Linked DNA regions of Homo sapiens. The protein of the gene in region 1 interacts with the protein of each later gene in a pairwise test. Each region holds a gene or a part of one and is shown on either strand. Other genes may lie near its edges.

Evidence for each region.
Region 2: the proteins of SPANXN3 (region 1) and ZNF76 interact in binary tests that used the Homo sapiens proteins (3 or more experiments, as listed by UniProt).
Region 3: the proteins of SPANXN3 (region 1) and ZNF143 interact in binary tests that used the Homo sapiens proteins (3 or more experiments, as listed by UniProt).
Region 4: the proteins of SPANXN3 (region 1) and MEOX2 interact in a two-hybrid assay, tested with the Homo sapiens proteins (one large-scale study listed by BioGRID).
Region 5: the proteins of SPANXN3 (region 1) and SDCBP interact in binary tests that used the Homo sapiens proteins (3 or more experiments, as listed by UniProt).
Region 6: the proteins of SPANXN3 (region 1) and FAM217B interact in binary tests that used the Homo sapiens proteins (3 or more experiments, as listed by UniProt).
Region 7: the proteins of SPANXN3 (region 1) and PTGES3L-AARSD1 interact in binary tests that used the Homo sapiens proteins (3 or more experiments, as listed by UniProt).

What each region holds. Positions count from the first base shown.
Region 1 is NC_000023.11:143,508,235-143,511,355, forward strand, and holds the end of SPANXN3 (sperm protein associated with the nucleus on the X chromosome N3), read right to left. Parts: intron 929-3,121; coding exon 581-928; 3' UTR 501-580; downstream 1-500.
Region 2 is NC_000006.12:35,276,735-35,280,234, forward strand, and holds part of ZNF76 (zinc finger protein 76), read left to right. Parts: intron 1-3,500. UniProt on the Homo sapiens protein: May be involved in transcriptional regulation.
Region 3 is NC_000011.10:9,464,012-9,467,511, forward strand, and holds part of ZNF143 (zinc finger protein 143), read left to right. Parts: intron 1-3,500. UniProt on the Homo sapiens protein: Transcriptional activator. Activates the gene for selenocysteine tRNA (tRNAsec). Binds to the SPH motif of small nuclear RNA (snRNA) gene promoters. Participates in efficient U6 RNA polymerase III transcription via its interaction with CHD8.
Region 4 is NC_000007.14:15,620,684-15,624,183, reverse strand, and holds part of MEOX2 (homeobox protein MOX-2), read left to right. Parts: intron 1-3,500. UniProt on the Homo sapiens protein: Mesodermal transcription factor that plays a key role in somitogenesis and somitogenesis and limb muscle differentiation. Required during limb development for normal appendicular muscle formation and for the normal regulation of myogenic genes.
Region 5 is NC_000008.11:58,559,761-58,563,260, reverse strand, and holds part of SDCBP (syntenin-1), read right to left. Parts: intron 2,978-3,500; exon of another isoform or gene 1,514-2,977; coding exon of another isoform or gene 1,466-1,513; intron 1-1,465. UniProt on the Homo sapiens protein: Multifunctional adapter protein involved in diverse array of functions including trafficking of transmembrane proteins, neuro and immunomodulation, exosome biogenesis, and tumorigenesis.
Region 6 is NC_000020.11:59,938,964-59,943,188, reverse strand, and holds the start of FAM217B (protein FAM217B), read right to left. Parts: upstream 2,801-4,225; 5' UTR 2,654-2,800; intron 992-2,653; 5' UTR 880-991; intron 763-879; 5' UTR 677-762; intron 1-676. Other genes in the region: PPP1R3D (protein phosphatase 1 regulatory subunit 3D), read left to right, coding at 3,258-4,157.
Region 7 is NC_000017.11:42,960,029-42,963,528, reverse strand, and holds part of PTGES3L-AARSD1 (PTGES3L-AARSD1 protein), read left to right. Parts: intron 1-2,177; coding exon 2,178-2,337; intron 2,338-3,500. Other genes in the region: alanyl-tRNA editing protein Aarsd1, read left to right, coding at 2,178-2,337. UniProt on the Homo sapiens protein: Functions in trans to edit the amino acid moiety from incorrectly charged tRNA(Ala).

The DNA.
Region 1 (3,121 bases):
GCAACTTCCACCTCCTGGGTTCAAGCGATTCTCCTGCCTTGGCCTTCAAGTAGCTGGGATTACAGGTGCCTGACACCATGCCTGGCTAATTTTTATATATTTTTTAGTAGAGACAGGGGTTCACCATGTTGGCCCATGCTGGTCTCAAACTCCTGACCTCAGGTGACTGCCAGTCTCAGCCTCCCAAAGTGCTGGGATTAGAGGCATGAGCCACCATGCCCAGCGAATACAGATCTTTTTGTACACCCTTCTACACAATCACATGCTCCAAGAAACACCATGTCCTTTTCTTCCTCTCCTGTAAGACAAAATTTTAAGAAGAAAATTTGTCTGAGGAATCAGTCCTCCGCCAGTCCTTATTTGCAATGTCTGGCTAACTGTCAACCTGTGGGTCCGTCTCCCAACCTACAGGACCTCATATCCCTCCCTTCTCAAATGCCTACCTCTTCCCTTCCCTTCCCCACCCCACACCAGACAACAGGCAGAGATAAACACAGTCATCAGCTCCTTAAACTTGATTTTATTGTAATCATCGCCATCAGTGGTGATGATTTGTCCAATTTGGTTTCTCCATGTGTGACTAATCCTCCCCACTGTCCTGTGAAGATCCTTCAGATAAGCCTAGGTCTTCATCCTCCTGTGAGGATCCTTCAGATGAGTCTAGATCTTTGTCCTCCTTTGAAGGTCCTTCACATGGGCCTAGGTCTTCATCCTCATTTGAAGATCCTTCAGATAAGTCTACGCCTTCGTCCTCCTCCTTTTGGATTGGATTGATGGAGTTCTCTTGGGACTGTTCATTCTCCAGTTGATTTGAATTTATTTTCTTACCCTTCCTGAGGTAATACACAAATATTATTGGATATTCTGATGTTTTTGTGTTCTTCAAACTCTGTTCGGGGGCTAAGACTCTGTTTGGTACCTCTTGCATCTGGTAAGAAAATAGGGAGAGGCCAGAAAGACATTATTTTGGGTGAATAGGATAGAGACTAGATAGCAAGGGGGGCTTTATGAGAAGGAATGCAGGTGGAGGAAGGGGTGTGTGCCAGAGAAGAACAAGGTGAAATCATAGGGTAGGTATCTATGCAGAAGAAGAAGAGGAGCATGGGTAGAGTCACCTGTTAGTCCAAACTGCATGATTTTGTAAGTTTTTGCTATGTTGCAGACCTTGGTCAAAGTGAAACATTCCATGGGGGTTCAGGCCATGAGCAACATCCTGCCTAACCACCTGACCACAAGGTGGACAAAGGCTCAACTAAAGAAACATCCCTATCATAAGTCCTGTTCCCCTTATTCTTTCATCTTCTCCAGCCCTGGGCTAACCTCCAGATATTGATTAAACTCTCCATCTTATTTTTCCTTCATTCCCCTTTCCAGGCAGCTGCAAAGGAACACCACAATGATATTCCACTGGAAAAAGGGCCAAACCACCTGATCATAAGAACATCTTATCAATATCCTCCTGGGCAGCAAGCCATACTGCCCAGCTCCCTCCCACCCATACCTGTAAGTACCCCAGGCTATAAGCGGCAGTGGGCTCTGGCATTAAGCTGGTCCCCCACTTCCACAGGTGTCTGCAATATTCCTGTGTTGTTGTTTGAGATGCACCCTCTCTGTCTGTCTTTCTTTCACCCTCATCTTCCCTTCAAAACCTAACACTTTGGTGCCAAAACCCAGGACGGTGATTGGGTTCTAATGGGTAAGTTTTCTCTTGCAACCTGGAAAGCAGAAAGCAGCAAGCAGCACAAACTAGACCGGGGCCTACTTCCAGATCCTGAGTGGACTGTCTGTTCCCAGTCCTGTTTCCCCTATTCTCTCATCTTCTCCAGCCCTGGACTAACCTCCAGATATTGATCAAACTCTCCATCTTATTTTTCCTTCCTTCCCCTTCCCAAGCAGCTGCAACCAGGATCACCCCCATTGCTGGACATCACATCCAACACTGGGCTTCAATTCGTGGGTGAGTCTCCCTATTCTTCCTTTCTGGATTCCTTTCTATTTCTGCTTGTTCTCCAAAAAAATTCCAGTGCTGGGTGAGAGGTCTCCCCAGTCACCAGGTGACTGCAGCCTCCCTTCTCAGGGGACAGCCTCAGAACACTTGCCATTCTGGCCGCTCCGTCCTCTGGGGAGCATGAATAGCTATGGGGCTGTCCCAACTCTCCAGGTCCCTTCTCCCAGGTGGAATCCAGTACTCACTTTCCTCTGGGGTATTCACTTCCCTCTGGAGAACTCACTCCCCTCTGGGGTATTCACTCCCTTCTGGGGTACTCACTTTCCCCAGAGTATTCACTCCCATCCAGAGTATTCACTCCCCTCTTCTAAAAAACAAAACATTCAACTTTCAAATTCAACATCATCTAAAAATCTTTCTCCAACACAATGGTAAATGATCTGAAGTGCTTTGCTTATCTCCGCTCATGCCTCACTCACTCTCCTGCCAATCTTGTTCACCTTTTCAAATCTTCCTCCTCAAGGAGAAACCCCCCAAAATGCCTCCTCCTCGGGACAAGCCTTCCTCCTCTGAATTTCAACCTGGCCAACAAACCCCTTCGTCTGGCTCCTGCCCTCTCCCATTCCCTCCACCTTCTCCTTCGGATCCGGCTCCTCCACCCCCTTACTGTCACCCTCCATCCCCCTTCCTTCTCCACCTCAAACCAGGTCTCACGCCCAACGCTCTTTTGCCGAAAACCAGACACATGCCCAAAGGCCTTCCAAAGTCTTTCCCTTGCAGGAGGTTGCAAGGACTGAAGGCATAATCTGAATTCAAGTTCCCTAGCTGACTTCTCCCATACTGAAAAGAGACTTTGCTCCTTTTCAATGGATCCTACCTCCTTCCTCAAGGAATGTCTGTACTTCCCTAAATCTTATGACCTTACCTGGCATGACATATATGTCATCCTCTCCTCTACCCTCACCCTGGAGGACAGGGAACACATATTTACGGGTGCCCAGGTCCATGAGAACACCCTCCACCAACAAGATGCTGCTCATAACCCAGTAGGGACCCTAGCTGTCCCCAGAACTGACCTCAATCGGAATTATCAGGCAACTTCTGTAGACAGGCAGAAACCAGGCCATATGATATCATGCCTTCTAGCTGGCATAAATAAAGTCGCCCCTGCTC
Region 2 (3,500 bases), on another chromosome or scaffold:
CAATCCCTTTTCAACCTATGTCTGCTTTGTTTTTATTTTTATTTATTTATTTATGGGTTTTTTTTTTTTTTTTTTTTTGAGACAAGAGTTTTGCTGTTGTTGCCCAGGCTAGAGTGCAGTGATGCAATTTTGGCTCACTGCAACCTCCGCCTCCTGGGTCCAAGCAATTCTCCTGCCTCAGCCTCCCAAGTAGCTAGGCATGTGCTACCACACCTGGCTAATTTTTGTATTTTTTTTTTTTTTTAGCAGAGGCGGGGTTTCACCATGTTGGTCAGGCTGGTCTCGAACTCCTGATCTCAAGTGATCCGCCCACTTCGGCCTCCCAAAGTGCTGGGATTACAGGCATGAGCCACCGTGCCCAGCCTGCTTTGTTTTTAGACCTGGTTTCTCTTATGTGTCTTCTGACACAGTGCAGTTACACTAAAGCGGGTTACCCAAAGAATCTACCTGATGAAGAGAGTGAAGCTTGAAGGTCAGAGCAGACCAAGAGAGGCCAGGAGCAGAGCTCTTGTGAGACAGGGACCACGTGGAGGTTATCAGGGCTCTGGGCAAGGATGCTAATAGACCAGAGATGTCAGATGTCAGAATCCCCACCTTGACCAGTGGTTCTTCACCATTAATCCCTATCAGACCCTGATGACAGCCTTGGATTTCCCTCTCTCCTGGAAAATGCAAAGGCTCACACACCAAAAAAGTATTTTGGAGTAGCTTCAAGTTTCATAAACCCCCAGCTTCACCTCTGTGCTTCGCAGCATAGTAATTAAGGTCACACTCTGGATTAAATGGCCTAGGGTGAAATCCTCCTTTACTAGTTAGCTGTGTAACCTTGAGCAAGTTACTTAACTTGGTCTTGGGCCTCCAGTTCCCTCACTTTTAAATGAGGATAATCATAGCATTTGATTGTAGGATTGTTAGAACTAAATGAGTTAATGTATGTGACATTCCTAGCACGTGGTTAACTCTATAGTAGTGTTCACTATATAATAGTATTGCTGCCCTTGCACCTTAGCCCATTTAGTAAATGTTTATGGACAGAATGAATGAATAATTCTAGTTGAGATGCCATGCCTGGGGTAGAGCATTCCAATCAGCGTGTCGCAGTTGGTCTATAGGTTTTTTTGGGTTTTTCGTTTGTTTGTTTTTGAGACGGAGTCTCACTCTGTCGCCCAGGCTGGAGTGCAGTGGTGCAGTCTTGGCTCACTGCAAGCTCCGCCTCCCAGGTTTATGCCATTCTTCTGCCTTAGCCTCCCGAGTAGCTGGAACTACAGGCGCCCTCCACGCCCGGCTAATTTTTTGTATTTTTAGTAGAGACAGGGTTTCACCCTGTTAGTCAGGATGGTCTGGATCTCCTGACCTTGTGATCTGCCCGCCTCAACTTCTCAAAGTGCTGGGATTACAGGTGTGAGCCACCACGCCCAGCCAGTTTTTGTTTTGTTTTTTTCTTTTTTTTTGAGACGGAGTTTCGCTGTTGTTGCCCAGGCTGGAGTGCAATGACACGATCTCGGCTCACCGCAACCTCTGCCTCCCAGGTTCAAGCAATTCTCCTGCCTCAGCCTCCCAAGTAGCTGGGATTACAGGCATGTGCCACCATGCCCAGCTAATTTTGTATTTTTAGTAGAGACGGGGCTTCTCCATGTTAGTCAGGCTGGTCTCGAACTCCTGGATGGTCTATAATTTTGCCAAGATATTGATCCGCTCGCCCCTCAGGGCTGTCAAAGCCCCAGTTGGTCGCTTCTGGCTTGAAGCAGTGACATCTGCAATGTGAACTTCTGACTTTAAGCAGCAGCATCTGCAATGCAATGTACAAATATCTGTCTCTCTAGGTCCCCTGACATGAAAACAGTTTGGGTAGCACCAGTCAAAGATATCGGTTGGTAAGTCGTGAGAATCCAGTAGGCAGTCCAGATTCCAAGTCCAGGAGAATTTTGAGAATGGATGTCAAAGAGAGTCTTCACGACTGCACTGAGTTTAGAGGCCGTGGGCTTCCTGCAGGCTTCACAAGTGTTGGGGTCCACTGCTAGAGCAGGCTGCACACCACAGTGGGTACAGAAGATATCCTGCCAGCAGGAAGCTTCAGTGCTTCCCACCTTGCACATGAGGGACCCAGGGAGTCACTCACAGGATGTGTGGAGAGCCCACAGTGTGAGTTGCTGGAGAAACCACTGTGACGCAGAAACCAGGCTAGAGCCCAAAGCCTTGTGTAGGCAACGGACATTAAACAGATAGTGATGAGTACTGAAGTAGGTTGAGCCCAGAGGTGTGAGTGCTAGGAAAAGGTGGTACCTAGGCTGTGGGAGTTTATAACAACCCAGCCTTGTATGCAAGGTGGACTCTAAGAGCTGTAGGAAACTATGGAAGGGTTTTAGTCAAGGAAGTGGTATGTTTAGATTTGTACTCTTTTTTTCTTATAAATCTACTTTTATTTATTTACTTTTCATTAGCTTAAGTCCTTGAGGGGCACAGCGTCACACAGATTCTGTGTTCAATAGCTTTAGCAAGATTGCTTGGGAATTTAGCACAAACCATGCCACTGTTTCCATGGGCCTGAGTTTACCTTTCCCCAGATTATGCTGGTTTTCTTCAGTTTGCTGCCAGCAGTCAGTGTGTTGTTCTTTGCTTTATACATGTAAGTACATCTCTTGCCTAAATAGAATTAGTTTCATTTCGAGCATAAATACCTTCAATTTTTTTTTTTTTTTTTTTTTTTTTTTGGGACGGAGTCTCGCTCTGTCGCCCAGGCTGGAGTGCAGTGGCGCGATCTTGGCTCATTGCAAGCTCCACCTCCCAGGTTCATGCCATTCTCCTGCCTCAGCCTCCCAAGTAGCTGGGACTACAGGTGCCCACCACCACGCCCGGCTAATTTTTTGTATTTTTAGTAGAGATGGGTTTTCACCATGTTAGCCAGGATGGTCTCAATCTCCTGACCTCGTGATCCACTGTCCTCGGCCTCCCAAAGTGCTGGGATTACAGTCGTGAGCCACCGCACTTGGCCAATACCTCAATTTTAATAAGAGCTGTGTCCTCGCTTTGGTTCTGGAGGCCCCACTTACAGCTAGCAAAAAATGGCCTTGGACTACAGCCTTCCAAATGTATTGTATTTATCTTATTATTATTTTTGAGACAGAGTCTCTTTATCACCCAGGCTGGAATTCAGTGGTATGATCAAAGCTTACTGCAGTTTCAAATTCCTGGGGTCAGGCAGTGCTCCCACCTCAGCCTCTTGTGTAGCTAGGATTGCAGGCATGTGCCACTACACCTGGCTAATTTTTTTTTTTTTGTAGAGACAATGTCTTGCTGTGTTGCCCACATTGGTCTTGAACTCCTAGCCTCAAATAATCCTCCTGCCTCAGCCTCCCAAAGCACTGGGATTACAGGCATGAGCCACTACACCCCGCCCATATTTGCCTTTTGGAAGTCCTGTTCTCAGCAGGCCTCTACAGGCTCCAAGATAGTGGGAAGAGAGCTTTTTTTTTAAATTCACCCTGACAGCATAAACATGA
Region 3 (3,500 bases), on another chromosome or scaffold:
CACTGTTTCAGATAGATAGATCTCATTCTTTTAAATGCCTACATGTTTCATTTAGGGATGTCGTGTGTGTGTGTTTGTGTGTGTGTGTGTGTGTGTGTGTGTGTATTTGTGTATAGATATTAAAAATCCATTTTTTTTAAGAGACAGGGTCTCACTCTCACCCAGACTGGAGTGCAGTGGCATGATCTCAGCTCACTGCAGCCTCAACCTCCCTGGCACAAGTGATCCTCCCACCTCAGACTCCAGAGTAGCTAGGACTACAGGTGCACGCCACAATGCCCAGCTAATTTTTAGAAAAACGTTTGTAGGCCAGGCGTGGTGGCTCACGCCTATAATCCCAGTACTTTGGGAGGCTGAGGCAGGTGGATCTCCTGAGGTCAGGAATTTGAGACCAGCCTGGCCAACATGGTGAAACCCTGTCTCTACTAAAAATACAAAAATTAGCCAGGTGGGGTGGCCCATGCCTTTAATCCCAGCTACTCGGGAGGCTGAGGCAGGAGAATCTCTTGAACCTGGGAGGTGGAGGTTGCAGTGAGCTGAGATTGCACCACTGCACTCCAGCCTGGGGGACAGAACAAGACCCTGTCTCAATCAATCAATCAATCAATCAATGGTGTGTGTTAATTACATAATAAGAATAATGCTCACGCCTGTAATCCCAGCACTTTGGGAGGCCGAGGTGGGTGGATCACGAGGTCAGGAGTTCAAGATGAGCCCGACCAACATGGTGAAATCCCGTCTCTACTAAAAAAATACAAAAAATTAGCTGGGCATGGTGGCGGGCACCTGTAATCCCAGCTACTCAGGAGGCTGAGGCAGGGGAATTGCTTGAACCCAGGAGGCAGAGGTTGCAGTGAGACGAGATCGCGTCACTGTATTCCAGCCTGGGCGACAGAGGGAGACTCTGTCTCAAAAAAAAAATAATAATAATGCTAAATGGCCTATAAGGGTAATTAATTTGTTAAATGTGAATTAAAAGTGATCATTGTGAAGAATTTTTGACAACTTAGGAAAATTTATAGGAATAAAAAAAGCTGAATACAAAATGTTATGTATATGATAATTACAATGCTGTAAAAATTTTGTATGTATGTGGATAGCAAGGGCTAGAGAATAAAACCAGGAAAACTGAAAATGTTTGATTTGTTAAGCTATTGGGACTTACTATTTTTTTTATTTATTTTATTTGTTTTGAGACGGAGTCTTACTCTGTCACCCAGGCTGGAGTGCAGTGGTGCGATCTCAGCTCACTGCAACCTCCGCCTCCCGGGTTCAAGTGATTCCCCTGCCTCAGCCTCCCAAGTAGCTGGGATTACAGAAGCACGCCACCATGCCCAGCTAATTTTTTTATTTTTAGTAGAGACGGGGTTTCACCATGTTGGCCAGGCTGGTCTTGAACTCCTGACCTTGTGATCCGCCTGCCTTGGCTCCCAGAGTGCTGGGATTACAGGTGCAAGCCACCGTGCCTGGCTGGTACTTTTATTTATTTATTTATTTATTTTTTCTGAAATGGAGTCTCACTCTGTCGCCCAGGCTGGAGTGCAGTGGCGTGATCTCGGCTCTCTGCAAGCTCTGCCTCCCAGGTTCACACCATTCTCCTGCCTCAGCCTCCCTAGTAGCTGGGACTATAGGCGCCCGCCACCACGCCTGGCTAATTTTTTTTTTTTTTTTTGTATTTTTGGTAGAGACGGGGTTTCACCTGACCTCATAATCTGCCCGTCTTGGCCTCCCAAAGGACTTATTATTATAAGTTTTAAATTTATATTACAATATTGTATGCAAGGAAAAGTTTTTTGTTTTTTGTTTGTTTGTTTGTTTTCTTTTTTTGCTTTTGGGAGGATTTCTCTCTGTTTCCCAGGCAGGAGTACAGTGGCACAATCACAGCTCACTGCAGCCTCTACCTCCCAGGCCCAAGTGATCCTCCCTTCTCCTCAGCCTCCCAAGTGGCTTGGTATTACAGGTCCAAGCTACCATGTCTGGCTAATTTTTTTTTTTTTTGAGAGGGAGTTCACCCAGGCTGGAGTGCAGTGGCTAGATCTCGGCTCACTGCAACCTCCAGCTCCCAGGCTCAAGTGATTCTCCTTCCTCAGCATCCTGAGTATCTGGGATTACAGGCACCTGCCACCACATCTGGCTAATTTTTGTATTTTTAGTAGAGACAGGGTTTCACCATGTTGGCCAGGCTGGTCTTGAACTCCTGACCTTAGGTGATCCACCCATCTCAGCCTCCCAGAGTGCTGGGATTACAGACGTGAGCCACCATGCGCAGCCTAATTTTTTTCTTTTCTTTTCTTTTTTTTTGAGATGGAGTCTTGCTCTTGTTGCCCAGGCTGGAGTGCAATGATGTGATCTCGGCTCACTGCAACCTACGTCTCCCGGATTCAAGCGATTCTCCTGCTTCAGCCTCCCTAGTAGCTGGGATTACAGGCGTCTGCCACCACGCCTGGCTAATTTTTGTATTTTTAGTAGTGACTGGGTTTCACCATGTTGGCCAGGGTGGTCTCGAACTCCTGACCTCAGGTGATCCACCCACCTCAGCCTCCCAAAGTGCTGGGATTACAGATGTGAGCCACCACTCCCGGCATAATTTTTTCCTTTTTTTTATTTTCCGTAGAGACAGGGTTTCACTGTGTTGCCCAGGCTGGTCTTGAACTCCTGGCCTCAAGCCGTCTTCCCTCCTTGGCCTCCCCAAGTGCTGCAGTTACAGGTGTGAGCCATCATGCCCAGCCTGCAAGGAAAATTTTAATGGTCTACAAAACACAATAAAATAGCTGACTGTTTTTAGACTGAAACGATGAGAATATGGTGCAGAGAGCAGTAAAGATATTATTGTAATACTTTTAAATATTACAATAGAGTAATACTCTGGTTTTTTTTTGTGTGTGTGTGTGTGTTTTTTTGACACAGAGTCTCTCTGTGTCACCCAGGCTGGAGTGCAGTGGCGCGATCTCGGCTCACTGCAAGCTCTGCCTCCCGGGTTCACGCCATTCTCCTGCCTCAGCCTCCGGAGTAGCTGGGACTACAGGTGCATGCCACCGCCTGGTTAATTTTTTGTATTTTTTAGTAGAGACGGGGTTTCACCGTGTTAGCCAGGATGCTCTCAATCTCCTGACCTCGTGATCCACCCGCCTTGGCCTCCCAAAGTGCTGGGATTACAGGAGTGAGCCACTGCGCCCTGGCCAACTATGTGTAATACTCTTAAGTGAGGGGATGAAAAAGGAAAGTGTTTTTTTTTTTTTTTTGAGATAGAGTTTTACTCTGTAGCTCAGGCTGGAGTGCAGTGGCACCATCTTGGCTCACTGCTGCCTCCACCCTCCGGGTTCAAGTGATTCTCCTGCCTCAGCTGGGAGTAGCTGGGATTATAGGCACCCGCCACCATACCCGGCTGATTTTCTTATATTTTTAGTAGAGACAGGGTTTTGTCATGTTGTCCGGGCTGTTCTCAAACTCCTGACTTCAGGTGATCCACCCGCCTCAGCCTTTCAAAGTGCTGGGATTAT
Region 4 (3,500 bases), on another chromosome or scaffold:
AAAAGAATTTAATTGTTATGAAAAAAATCTGAATAAAAATCCAAGGTTTGCTGATTAGAATTGTGTGTTCTTAAGTAAGTAACAATCTCCCCAAGGCATAAAATGGAAATTAAAACCTGCTCTTTCTTCTATGTAGATTTGTATATCATAATGGGTATGAAATAATTTTTAGTGTAAACTATAAAACAGAATTATCACCCAGGTGGGAAAAACCTTTGCTATGCAAAGCATGTTGAATTAATCATTTTGTAACACAAATATTTGTTGAGCTAAGTGCTGGAAGTAAAATCTTAAGCTAAAGAAATACCTGTTAGAATTCATAGAAGAGGTAAAAATTGAACAAATATTCACAATTGTTATGAGTGTAGAATGTCACAGGAGAGGAATGATGTAATTGTATTGGATAATGTTTCTGGTTGCACCATTTCATTCCAACATTTCTATGCACACATATTATCTTAAGTTTCTTAAATTAAGAATCTGTGCACAAAATATCTTAAATTAACAATCAAGCTGGGAGTGGTAGCTCAAGCCTGTACTTGTCCCAGCACTTTGGGAAGCCAAGGCAGGCAGGTCACTTGAGGTCAGGGGTTCAAGACCAGCCTGGCCAACATGGTGAAACCCCGTCTCTACTACAAATACAAAAATGAGCCAGGCGTGGTGGCAGGCACCTATAATCCTAGGTACATGGGAGGCTGAGGCAGGAGAAACATTTAAGCCTGGGAGGCAGAAGTTGCAGTGAGTTGAGTTTGCACCACTGCACTCCTGCCTGGGTGACAAAGTGAGACTCTGTATATAAAAAAAAATCACATACTTAAATTATGTGTCTATTTTAAGTTATATTGTATTTTCTGGGCTGAATTTTACTGTGCTGAATTTATCAGAAAAAATATACTATGATGTCAGTTGTCAACTTTGCTATTCTTGAAGGTCAGATGGCATATTCTTTCAAAATGCCAGGGCTCTCATCCCAGTGAAATATTTTCAGTTTATTTTCTGGAGGTTGGGGTTTTAAAGTTATTAACAGAATTACAAACAGAACACTTTAAAATCCATCTTCTGTAATTTGCAATGCAGCTTGTAGTCTATTGGGGCTGCTATAATGAAATACCATAGACTGGGTGGCTTATAAACAACACACATTTATTTCTCACAGTTCTGGAGGATGGGAAGTCCAAGATCAAGGCATCAGCAGATTCGGTGTCTGGTGAGCACACACTTCTTCATAGACTTCCATTTTTCCATTCTACCTTGATATGATGGCTGAAGAGGCTAGGTAGCTCTCTGGGACCTCTTTAATAAGGGCACTAATCTGAGTAATGCTAGATCTGTTCTTACGACCTAATCTCATTCCAAGGGCCCCATCTCCTAATGCCGTCACCTTGAGGGTTAGGATTTTAACATAAGAATTTGGAGGAGACATAAATATTTAGACCATAGCATGGCTATTCCATTACTTAGATTTTATATTAATCTCATAAATGCTATGTTTAGCCATGTAATCTATATCTTGACCCTATATAATCTTAAACAACATCCTTCCCTAGGATTTCCACATGTAAAATATCTAATTATAGATATGTTGTCTTTTCATATTCATTCTTTAAGACTTATTTTTTTCATATGTTAAAATAACCTGAGATTCAGTAAAATAAACATATACACCAAGGAATATTACATCTAACCTCATATTGTTCAATATTTTCCTTAGCTTTAATAGAATTATTTGAATATAAAATAGTTTCCTTAACATTGTCAAGGTCTTTTGAAATTCAAATGCAAAGACAGGACTTATAGGCTCATTTTATATGGGTGTGTGATTCAAAAGCAGAGACAGGACTCATAGGCTCATTTTATGTGTGTGTGTGTAAATATACACATATGCAAACACATACACACACATATACACAGATATATATGTATGTGTATGCATATAAATATATACACATCTCCATACTTCTAACTATATGTATATCTATCTACATCAAAAGAAAGATATCATGCAAACAGGGAAAACAAATATTAAATTATATAATAAGATTGCTTTTGTTTGTGTGTTTGTTTTTTGAGACAGAGTCTCGCTCTGTCACCAAGGCTGGAGTGCAGTGGTGCAGTCTCGGCTCACTGCAACCTCCGCCTCCTGGGTTCAAGCAATTCTCTTCCTCAGTCTCTCTGGTAGCTGGGATTACAGGCACCTGCTACCATGCCCGGCTAATTTTTTGTATTTTTAGTAGGGACGGGGTTTCACCATCTTGGCCAGGCTGGTCTTGAACTCCTGACCTCGTGATCCACCAGCCTCGGCCTCCCAAAGTGCTGAGATTACGGGCTTGAGCCATGGCACCTGGCCTGTAACAGAATTGTTTTTGAGAAATAATTTTCTCCTAAATGAAAACTTACTTTACAATCAGAACTAGTCTTTAGACATATTGTCATGTGGAAATTGTACATGATTGACAATAAAATGTGCATGTCTATCACTGATGTTATTTGTGGCTACCCCTACCTTACTTATATCACCGATCAGTATATCCAACACAAATTTTATGATGACTCATATATGTGTCATGAAGATTTGCAATAATAATTAGGTTTCCTTTTAGAAAAACATAAGGTATATTAAATCCTTAAATATCACTCAGGACTTGAATTTCCAAATTCCATTCTGAAGAATAGTCATGGAATCACACAAAGATGTCACACTCTTACATTTGCATCTTCCATAATGCAATGTCAGGGTAGTCTATAATTCTGTTTGAACTTCATCTGGCCAAAGAAGGAAAAAAAGAGGCTCATTCTGCAAAGTAATTCCATGTTAGCACACAAGTGTTAAAGAAAATCATTTTATGTTAAATAAAAATGCAGAAACTAGAATGAAGCTGAGCTTCAAATATTTTAATTATATAATGTTGTTTGTTGAACAGTTACAGATCACTCCAGTAAATCTTCTAGCTTCTAACTTACAGCTTCTAGTTTACAACATATTCTCATATAACCTTCAAGATCAACAGATAATAATCTTCAATTGTCAGAGTCACCCCGAATGATTTGCAGAGAACTCAGTCTAAAGGCTCTCCAGTTTCAAGGTATTTTTAATTTGGACAAGCTTATTCTGGCGTTTTTTTCTCCATCCAGATAAACTTGGAGAAAACTCCCACCAGATTTTTAATATCTCACAGTGGGAAGACGAGAGAAAGCAGCTGCAGGAGCATATAAAAGAAGTGGTAAAATGGACATTTTTATAGAGTTAAGGCTGCCAAATATAGACAGAATGGGAGATCCTTTCACTTCAAAACATCTTTTTCACAGAGCTAATCAAAGGTGTAATGTTGTAGACTTGTAAACTAGTTAAGATTACTGGAATAAACAGACTAAATTAATGATACTTCTGCCAAGATAAATGGAAAATCCCACCTAACGAGATCATACTCCATTGGTGGAAATGAGAGGGATTATGTTTTGTTTTTTACTCATAAATCATCAAATGGCCCAATGCCAAGTAT
Region 5 (3,500 bases), on another chromosome or scaffold:
TTCATTTTCATAGCAGAATAATATTCCATTGTATGTATACCACATTATATTTATGCTGTCATCAGCTGATGACATTTGGGTTATTTGCACTTTTGGCTATTATAAATAATGCTGTTAAAAATGCCAATGAGCATTTGCATTGTTAGCAAATAATATGTAAGTTTATATACTTTTTTAATAAATGCATCTTTAATTCTCTTGGAATATAGCTAAGCATGCAACTGCTGGGTCATATGGTAACTCTAATACCATCCCCTTGATGATTACAGGATTCAACATATGAATGGAGGGACACAGTCACAAACATTCAGACCATATCATAGACCACTATCATATATGATTTACAAATACTTTTCTTATTCTGTAGATTGTCTTTTCATTTTTTCTCACAGTGCATTTTGCAATATGAGGTTTTTAATTCTGACAAATTTGAATCTATATTTCTTCTTGGTTGCTTATGCTTTAGATATAACATCTAAGAAACTACTGCCCAACTCAAGGTTATGAAGACTTACCCTTATGTTTTCTTCAAAAAATGTTATGTCTTTAATTCCTGCATTTATATCTTTGATCTATTTTATGTTAATTTTGTACACGGTGTGTGGTATAGATCCATATTCATTATTATCCATGTGGAAACCCAGTTATTTCAGCACCATTTTTTGAAAATAACATTTTTGAATTGTCTTCGCATCGTTATTGAAAAGTGATCATAACTGTATGCACTTATTTCTGCAATCTCAATTCTATTTCACTGATCTATATGTCTATCCTTATACCAGTACCACACATTCTTGAGTACTGTACATTTGTATTAAGTTTTAAAATCAGTTAATGTGAATCCTCCCACTTTGTTCTTTTTCGAAATTGTTTTGGCTATTCTAAATCCCTATCAATTCAGTATCAGTTTTAGAATCAGTATATCCATTTCTGTAAAAAAATAAAAAGTATCCTTAAATCTGAAGTGAGTCTCTTATAAACTGGGTATAGCTGGCTCTTGGTTTTATTTTTTTAATCCATTCATCCCCTCTATGTCTTTTGATTGGAGAGTTTAGTACATTTAAAGTTATTACTGATAGGGAAGGACTTACAATGACATTTTGTTAATGATTTTCTATCTTGAAACTTTTTTGTCCTTCCTTTCCTCTCTTGCCATCATGCTTTTTGTTTCACTGTTTTTTTTTTTAATAGATATGCTTTGATTCCTTATTTGTGTGTGTGTATTTTCTATAGGTATTTTCTTTGTGGTTACCATGGAGTTTACATAAAACATCTTCTAATAAACCTATTTTAAGCTGATAATTTCAACTGCATACAATACTGCTTCTTCTCATCCATCCCCATACTGCATTACTGATGCTACAAATTTCATCTTTTATGTTGTGCATCTATTAATATTTTTATAGTTACAGGCACTTAAACTTTTGTCTTAGACTTATATATCAGAAATAAGTGATTTACTCACCACCATTACAATAATATGCAGGTCTCTATTTGTCCATAGCTTTATCATTTAATTTTATACTTTCATGTTGAACATACTTTTGTTTCCATTTAACAGACTCCCATTGGCGTTTAAGTCAGATATAGTGGTGATGAACTCTCTCAGATTTTGAGAATCTTATTTCTCTTTTACTTTTAAAGAAAAGTTTTGCCACATACAGTACTTTGCTGGCAGTTTTTCTTCCAGCAGTTTGACTATATCATCCCACTTCTTTCTGACCTGCAAGGTTTCTGCTAAGAAATCCACTTAGAGTCCCACAGAATCTCCTTTGTATATGACAAGTTGTTCTTATCCTGCTGCTTTCAAAATTCTTTGACAATTTGATTACAGTGTGTTTCCATGTAGATGTCTTCGGATTGTTCTACTCTGGAGTCCATTTGGCTTCTTGAATCTGGATGTCCACTGCCTTCCTTCAGTTTGGGAAGTTTTGGCCAGTATTTCTTCAAATAAGCTTTTTGCTCCTTTCTCTTTCCAACATATGGAACTTCCATACAATCTACATTGATAAAATTGATGCTGTCCCATTAGTACTCTAGGCTGTCTTCATTCTTTTTTTATTTTTTTTCTTTTTGCTTCTCTGACTGGATAATTTCAAATGACCTGGCTTCAAGTTCACTAATTCTTCTCCTTGAAAAACACTGCTGCTAAACTCCTCTAGTAAATCTTTCAATTTGGTCAAAGAAGCATATTGCATCTGTTACAATGTTTGTTTGGTTCCTTTTTACGTTTTCAATCTCTATGTTGATACCATTTTGTTCATGCAGCATTTTCCTTGGGTCACTGAACATGTTTATGGTGGTTAGTCTGAATTCCTTCTGAGATAATGAAGATATCTGTGTTTCCTTAAAGTAGGTTCCTGGATATTTTGACTCTTTGATTGTGCCATGTTTCCCTATTTCTTTGTGTGTCTTTTAACATCATGTTGGGATCCAAGCATTTGAAAAAATATCACCCCTCCCAGTCTTTGTGGTCTGGCTCTGTACAGAGAAAGATCCTCACTGATCGGCCTGACTAGAGATTCTGCATGCCTTTTGAACCTTTCCTGAGGATGCTTCTTCTCGACCAGTGTGTATAAATTCTCAAGATGAACTTGTTCGTTTCCTTTTTCAGGATCTCATAATCTTTTGCTCCCTGTGCTATCTGTCTGTGGTACTTCAGGTTCTCTGGAGCTGCTGCAAGCCACCCAGCTCTCTTGTTTTCAGAGGCCTCCAACCTGGTGCCCTTTCCCATCAGTGGGCTTTTAGAGTATGTCCACTCCTGCCTGTGCTCCAAGTCAGGTGAAACAGAAGCCAGTCCCTTGGGGGTAGCTCTCTGAAGTGCTGGAATGTTGGACACATACTCCACTATTCTCTCTCCAACACCTTTCATGCCACACGTAGGGACAAGCTGCTGAGCTGTATCATCCTCTGTCTGCCCTACCATAGGTCCTCTAGAGCAGCAACAAGTCTTCTGTTCTCAGTGGCTCCTGGGCACCTGGAATACACCAGCCCCTGTCAGCTTTCCAAGACAAGCAAGACAGAAGCCAGTCCCTCAGCCCACTGAAAAGGTGAAACACTGGACACACATTCCAACTCTTTTGTCTCCCCAAGGAGAAGCCAAGAGTTGAGGATTTTCTCCTGCTGGTTTCATGCTGAGGGAGGGGGAGGGACCATGGTGAGTGCCTGCTAATCTAAACTGTCAACTTTGTTTTCAATGACCCCGCAACCTGGTGCCCTTTCCTGTCAGAACTTATATTCAAGCAAAATAAAAACCAGACCCTTGGGCAGACCTCTGAAAAATCTGAATGTCACACAGATGTTTCAGTCTTCTCTTTCCCCGCCCAGGGAAAAACCAGGAGCCTGGAGTTTCCTCTTGCTCATGCCATGCTGAGCCAGGGGAATGAACTATGGTGAGCAAGTAGGATGAATTTTCCTACCATCTTCACTGCAGCTGGTTTACTGCTCACCTAGAATGCAGGAGCCTCTTAACTAGTTTCCGGATTTCTCACAAAGAGGTC
Region 6 (4,225 bases), on another chromosome or scaffold:
TCTGGCATAATTTATTCTGATGCTGAATCTCACATCAGAGTTGAAAATATCCTCTTTTCAATTTATTTACCAAGAACGTGGCATTTAAGATTAATAATACTTCTCTGTAATATAAGTCAGATAGAATGAATAGAAATGGGTGGTAAACATGCTTTCTGGAAACTTCAGAGGTTCATTTGCCCAGTGGTTTCAAACAACCTAAGCAACTATTTGAATACGTGCTACATTTTAATTAATAAATATGCAGGACATTAAATCATTGCCAATAGTACAACGTGTGCTCAATAAATGTTGAATAAATGAAGAAATGAAGGAATCTCCATTATTCAGAATTCATAACACTGTTAAAACATTTTGTTCCTGCCTGTCAGTATGCATCCATAAAAATTAATTATTGTCACTATCCTTTTATATAAAAGGAAACTAACATAGAAAAGTGATTAAAGGACTTACTCAAAATTATAATTCTGCTAACAACTGCCAGAATTATGACCGTTGGAATCCTTATCCACTATTATGCTTAAACCACTTTTCTATTCATTTCTGCTAGAAAAAAATTATAAATGTATATTTCTTATCTATAGACATACTTTTTTCCCCACTCCACATATTCAATCTGGACAACAGAGATAATGAGTCTTTTGCAAGATAAAGCAATTATACTAAAACTATTTACCTGCTTTTCTGATGAGATTCATTCACCCTATTCCTCTTCTTGAAAAAATCACGTGGCTGATCATCATCTCGGGTTTGATGGACTGTCTAAAAACAGGGATGCAGTAATAAACACTGTGAACATGTACACAAGAAACAAGCAAGCAAACAAACAAAAATCCCAGAATAAATCTAAGTCAGATTTTTCTTCTAAGTTTACATTACCTTTCCTGTAGTGCTCAAAATATTCTTGCTCAATCTGCTGGAAGATGATGACAGCTGGGGAGGTGACTTCTTTATTCCTCTTATATTTGGAAAGGTCTCCTCACCACCGGAACTAGAAGCAACAGAATACTGTCAGTAACTATTGATTGCAAATGGTCCTACCACCAGTATCGGGTTGGTTTTTCACTTGTTTTTTAATACTTGTATAATATTGAAATATTAAGGCTGTGATCATATAGTGGTTTGCACTCTAGGTTATGAAATACTGGGGAAGGGAGACATTGTCTTATGCTTACAGCTTTGTCTTTTCTGCTTATTACAGTAGATATTAGAGACAGGATCACAGGATCACACTACTATAAATACTGTGAATGGATTCCATCTCTCTCTCTCTCTCCCTGTTCACACACAGGTATAATCTTCCTTGGAAATAATATGTTGAAGAAATCTGGAAGGCTAAATAAGGTCAGGTCTTATTACAGCGTTCAATCATTGCATTGCCCAATCATTCATTCATGCAACAAATAATTACAGGAGTACCCAGAAAAATGGCAATGATTATGCACGTCCCTGTTCAGAAGGAGCTTAAACTCTAGGAGGAACGTTCCCATTCAATTTTTCGGCCTTCTCTATCACATCAATCCATTATAAGACTTTCCATATATTCATACATATTACATATTATATATCATCTCTTTATGAAGCATTGTTGACCTATACCACATATTGCTGTTATTCCCCTCTCATTTTGAGTGGCCTATTAAAAGTGCACTGAATGGAAATTGGATACTTCTCTTTCCCGTATCACCTGTCTCTGTAAAATAAAAGAGATGATTATAGAAGATTTTTATTTTCTTCCTGAAACTTTCCTGTATTTTTCCCACATTAATCATGTAAGCCTTTTTAGTTAGCTTACATCCAATGATAAATAAAATCATTCTCTCACATTTCATGAATTATACCACAATCAACAGCCTTGACTCATTTTAGATGCAACGAATGTTCTTGAATCAACCCCCTTTCATTAGTCTGGTTTTCTTTCTGCTTTGTCCCTCTGGACAATAAAAAGGAACCTTCTTAATGGAATGGCTGGCCCCAAACTGCTCTCTGGAAAGTGCACTTGCATCTTTTCTACTTCATTTCACCTGGTATGCTTTACACCAAAGGCTGTGGGGTTTTGTGCTCAAAGCTACCGGGTGAGAGACACGAATGCCTGCAGGGTTCTAAATAGGCAGAAAACAAGCTCCAGGCCTTGCTGGTGTTTCTGGCTTGCTTGGAAACAAAGCTAAAAGTCGGAGATTCTGGCTACAAATATGCTCCCCAAGCGCCAGAGGCTGATTAAGGGCAGCTGCAGAAGTCATCAGCGGGTAATAACTCTTGTTCCCCTGTCTTCCTCTCTGGCGCGGAGTCCAGGAAGACAACAGCAGCACCTCCCCTCCCCACCCTCAAGGGAATCTGCTGGCCATTCGGTGCGGCAAAGCATTCTGGGTGATGTGGACATGACGCTGCTCCTCTACGCAGTGAGGCTCCCTCGGTCTGACCAAGGGTCCAGGTTGCAGTGAACCTGTCCAAAGTGTGGGCTGGCCTCGATGTTTAAAATTAGCCTGAGACCAGCTCCTGGCAAGGCCGGTTTTTGCACCACCGCTCCCCCCATCCACAACCCAGAAATCTAAGGACACGCAGCATGCATTTTCCTTGTCCTCCGTTTGTGCAGACAAAGTCTATGATCGATAGGCGCGCAATCCAGGCAGACGTAAACAGAAATTGATCAGACCTGTTTCGCGACTGCAGCGGACACGTGACGAGGCTGCCAGCCTTCCTTCCTCTCCGGCGCCCGCGCGGGGACGCCCGGCTGCGGCGCGCTGCGGCAGGGGAGCTGGAGGCGGAGGCGCGCAGCTCCGCTGAGCTCCCTGGCTGAGCTGAGGCCGGCGGGGGCCCGCCTGCAGGCGGCGTCACGAGGGGCGGGGCGGAGGCTCGCTAGGAAGTTGCACCCGGTCAAGTTGCAGCCTTGTAAGTAACGCCGCGGACCGGGAAAGTGGGAGGGGCCGCTCCCGGAACGCAGCCTTCTTGTAAGAACCTCCAAGGAAGCAAGAAGAAAAAAGAGGCGCTACCCTGCGCTCCCGGGAGGCCTCTGAAAGCTTCCACTAGAGAAAAACTCCCCACTCTTACAATTTCTTTAACCGCAAGAAGCGGAGGACCTGGACAAGGACTCGAGGAGCAAGGTGGCGAACCAAGGGTAGGGCGCACCGGGCCCGAGAGGTCCCCCGCAGGTTGCAGATACGGTGGACTCTCTGCGGCTTCTGAGCACGGAGGGAGCTGTCGCGGGGTCGGGAGGTCGTCTCTCATCCCTGCCTCATCTTCCGACGGCCGGCGGGGCCATGTCCAGAGGCCCGAGCTCCGCGGTCCTGCCTAGCGCCCTGGGATCCCGGAAGCTCGGCCCCCGGAGCCTCAGCTGCCTGTCGGACCTGGACGGCGGCGTGGCCCTGGAGCCGCGGGCCTGTAGGCCCCCTGGGAGCCCGGGCCGCGCGCCGCCGCCAACGCCAGCGCCGTCGGGCTGCGACCCCCGCCTGCGGCCCATCATCCTGCGGCGGGCGCGCTCACTGCCCAGCTCCCCCGAGCGCCGCCAGAAGGCCGCGGGCGCGCCGGGCGCTGCGTGTCGGCCGGGCTGCAGCCAGAAGCTCCGCGTGCGCTTCGCCGACGCCCTGGGCTTGGAGCTGGCACAGGTCAAGGTGTTCAACGCGGGAGACGACCCGTCCGTGCCGCTGCACGTGCTGTCGCGGCTCGCAATCAACTCGGACCTGTGCTGCAGCAGCCAGGACCTGGAGTTCACCCTGCATTGCCTGGTGCCCGATTTCCCGCCGCCCGTCGAGGCCGCCGACTTTGGCGAGCGCCTGCAGCGGCAGCTCGTGTGCCTGGAGCGTGTCACTTGCTCGGACCTTGGCATCAGCGGTACGGTGCGCGTGTGCAACGTGGCCTTCGAGAAGCAGGTGGCTGTGCGCTACACTTTCTCGGGCTGGCGCAGTACCCACGAGGCGGTGGCGCGGTGGCGCGGGCCCGCAGGCCCCGAGGGCACGGAGGACGTTTTCACCTTCGGCTTTCCAGTACCGCCCTTCCTGCTGGAGCTCGGCTCCCGCGTGCACTTCGCGGTGCGCTACCAAGTGGCGGGTGCCGAGTACTGGGACAACAACGACCACCGAGACTACAGCCTCACATGTCGCAACCACGCGCTGCACATGCCTCGCGGGGAGTGCGAAGAGAGCTGGATCCACTTCATCTGAGCCGCGCGGGGACCGGCCACCTGGAGCCTCCACACCTAAGCTGCGCCTCCTGTCATTTCCCTGCTGGG
Region 7 (3,500 bases), on another chromosome or scaffold:
GGTACAACATGAGCGCAAGTGAGGTACATTGTGAAGATGGAAGAGGAGGATAATAACACCAAAGGTGGGCATTATGAGAAAGGCTTTTCTTTCTTTTCTTTTCTTTCTTTCTTTCTTTTTTTTTTTGAGACAGAATCTCTCGCTGTCATCAGGCTGAAGTGCAGTGGCATGATCTCAGCTCTGCAACCTCCGCCTCCTGGGTTCAAGTGATTCTCCTGTCTCAGCCTCCCAAGTAGCCTGACCAACATGATGAAACCTTGTCTCTACTAAAAATATAAAAATTAACCAGGCATACTGGCAGGCCCCTGTAGTCCCAGCTACTCGGGAGGCTGAGGCATGAGAATCACTTGAACCGGGAGGCTGAAGTTGCAGTGAGCCAAGATTGTGCCACTGCACTTCAGCGTGGGGGACAGAACAAGACTCCGTCTCAAAAGAAAAAAAAAAGGTGTATTAAGGTGTGTGGGCAGCGAACCATGCAGGTTATTTTCTTTCTTTTTTATTTTTAAGAGACAGGATCTTGCTATGTCACCCAGGCTGGAGTGCAGTGGCCTGATCTAGCTCACTGCAGCCTCGAACTCCCAGGCTCAAGCAATCCTCCTGTTTTAGCCTCTCCAGTAGTGGGGACTACAGGCGCACAACCAACATGCTTGGCTGCTTTTTTGTAGAGATGAGGTCTCACTTTATTGCCCAGGCTGATCTTGAGCTCCTGGCCTCAAACAGTCCTCCCACCTTGGCCTCCCAAAGGCTGGGCCTACAGGTGTGAGCCACTGCCCTGGCCTCCACTCAGGTTCTTAAGCAAATAAGTGACATGAGAGAACATGTTCAGTAGACTTGGTATTGAGAGAGTTCCAATTTCATATCAGTCATTATTATGGTGATTTTCCCAGTATGAAGATTTCCCTGATCTGCTGAAGGAAAACCTGTGACCTCAAGTATCCATAGAAGGTCTCATTTTAGACAGCATTTCTTTCAGGAAGTCTTTTTTTGATTCCCCAAGACTGTTAGGTCTCTTTCCTTTGAGGTTCTCTAGCGTCATATACTTTTTCATATTATGGCATGTTATAGGTCATATTGCAATTGTCTGTTTTCCAGCCTCTGTTCTCTAGACTCTTAAGTTCCATGAGGTACCATATCTTGTTTACATTGTATTCTTGGGCTGGCACAGTCTTTTGTAAGCAGTTGGCACTTGAAATGTTTTAAAATGAATGAACTTTTTTTTTTTTTTTTTTTGAGATGGTGTCTTGCTCTGTTGCCAGGCTGGAGCGCAGCGGCGTGATCTCGGCTTACTGCAATCTCCGTCTGCCAGGTTCAAGCAATTCCCCTGCCTCAGTCTCCCGAGTAGCTAGGACTACAGGTGTGCACCACCATGCCCAGTTAATTTTTTGTATTTTAGTAGAGACGGGGTTTCACCATGTTGGCCAGGATGGTCTTGATCTCCTGACCTTGTGATCCGCCCACCTCGGCCTTCCAAAGTACTGGGATTACAGGTGTGAGCCACTGTACCTGGCCCTTTTTTTTTTTTAAATGAGACAGTGTCTCACTCTGTCACCCAGGCTGGAGTGTAGTGGAGCAATCATAGCACACTGCAGTCTCAACCTTTTGGGCTCAAGTGATTCTCCCACCTCAGCCTCCCAAGTAGCAGGGAGTATCATGGCCAGCTAATTTTTTATTTTTCATAGAGGTGGGGTCTCACTGTGTTGTCCAGTCTGATCTCAAGCGATCCTCCTGCCTTGGTCTCCCAAAGTGGTGGGATTACAGGAATAAGCTACCATGCCCAGCCTAAATGAACATTTTTGAATCTAATTCTAATACCACTGCAAGAGGATGGAGTGGAGGGAGGGAGGAAAAATCAGATCATTTTAGAGACTACAAAAGAATCTAGACTAAGGCAAGGAGAGTTGAGGATTAAGATTCTTCGGGTTTTACTAAAATTTTTGTTGCTGTAGTTACAATCTCTTTAATTCTGTTATTCTGAAGATCACAACACATAGGTGTTTAGAATGAAAAGGACTGAGAATCCTCTCATGGAACAAAGTGGACTCATTTCACTTGGCATTGCTTTCTCCCTCTCCCTTAGGGAGCCCAGATTCTGGGTCTCTCACCCTAGAGGGTCTTTGTACCTAGAAGTTAGGGTGAGCCCTGCCTTGCCATTGATTACGTTTACTTATTTCCACCAGCCTGATGACCGTGGTACAATCAATGACATCTCTGTGCTGAGAGTGACTCGCCGTGGGGAACAGGCTGATCATTTCACCCAGACACCCCTGGATCCAGGAAGCCAGGTTCTGGTCCGGGTAGATTGGGAGCGGAGGTTTGACCACATGCAGCAGCATTCAGGTAAAGGCTGGGATGGGGGACATAACACCGGAGCAGTTGCCATGTATGGGGATGCTGTGATGACTGAGACGTAGTTTGGGTTCTCTAGGAGTTAACCTTTTGGAAAAGACAGACTATTCAGAATCAGCTGTAATTCAGGAAGGATATCCTAAATGTTATAACAGCAACATGAACAACTGAAGTAAAAAAAAGTATTAGAATAACTGCTGGATTTAGGTATTATCAACTTCCCACTCGATATCTCCATCTGGATGTCTCACAGCCTTTTCAAACTCAAAATGTCCAAAATGAAACAAAAAGCCTTCCCCTCCCTCCTGGTCTTTCATTAGCATCCTGTGTGTTCATCGCAGGGCATCAGCATGCACCTAGTCACTCAAGTTCTGGAAGTCATTCCAGATACCTCTTCAGGCATAGACAGCCAGCCAATCACTGAGTCCTGTTGGTTTCTTTTCTTTTTTTTTTTTTTTTTTGACACAGAGTTTCGCTCTGTCACCCAGGCTGGAGTGCAATGGTGCGATCTCGGCTCACTGCAACCTCTGCCTCTCGGGTTCAAGCGATTCTCCTGCCTCAGCCTCCCGAGTAGCTGGGATTATAGGCCCCCACCACCATGCCCAGCTAATTTTGTATTTTTAATAGAGACGGTGTTTCACCATATTGGTCAGGCTGGTCTTGAACTCCTGACCTCAGATGATCCGCCTGCCTTGACCCCGCAAAGTACAGGCATGAGCCACACCCCCCCAGCATGTTGGTTTGTTTTCTAAATGTCTGTCCACTTCTTTCCACAGTCACTGTCATCCTAGTCCCAGCTCCTAGCTGTCTTCCCCCTGGACCTCTCTAACAGTTTCCTAATTGATTGCCCCACATTCAGTCTGGCTCCTCTGTAGCCCATTCTCCACATAGCACCAGAACAGTCTTTTTTTTTTTGAGTTGGAGTCTCGCTCTGTCGCCCAGGCTGGAGTGCAATGGCATGATCTCGGCTCACTGCAACCTCACCTCCCGGGCTCAAGTGATCCTCTTGCCTTGGCCTCCCGAGTAGCTGGGATAACAGGTGCGTGCCACCATGCCTGGCTAATTTTTGTATTTTTAGTAGAGACGGTGTTTCACCATGTTGGCCAGGCTGGTCTCGAACTCCAGACCTCGTGATCCGCCCGCCTCGGCTTCTC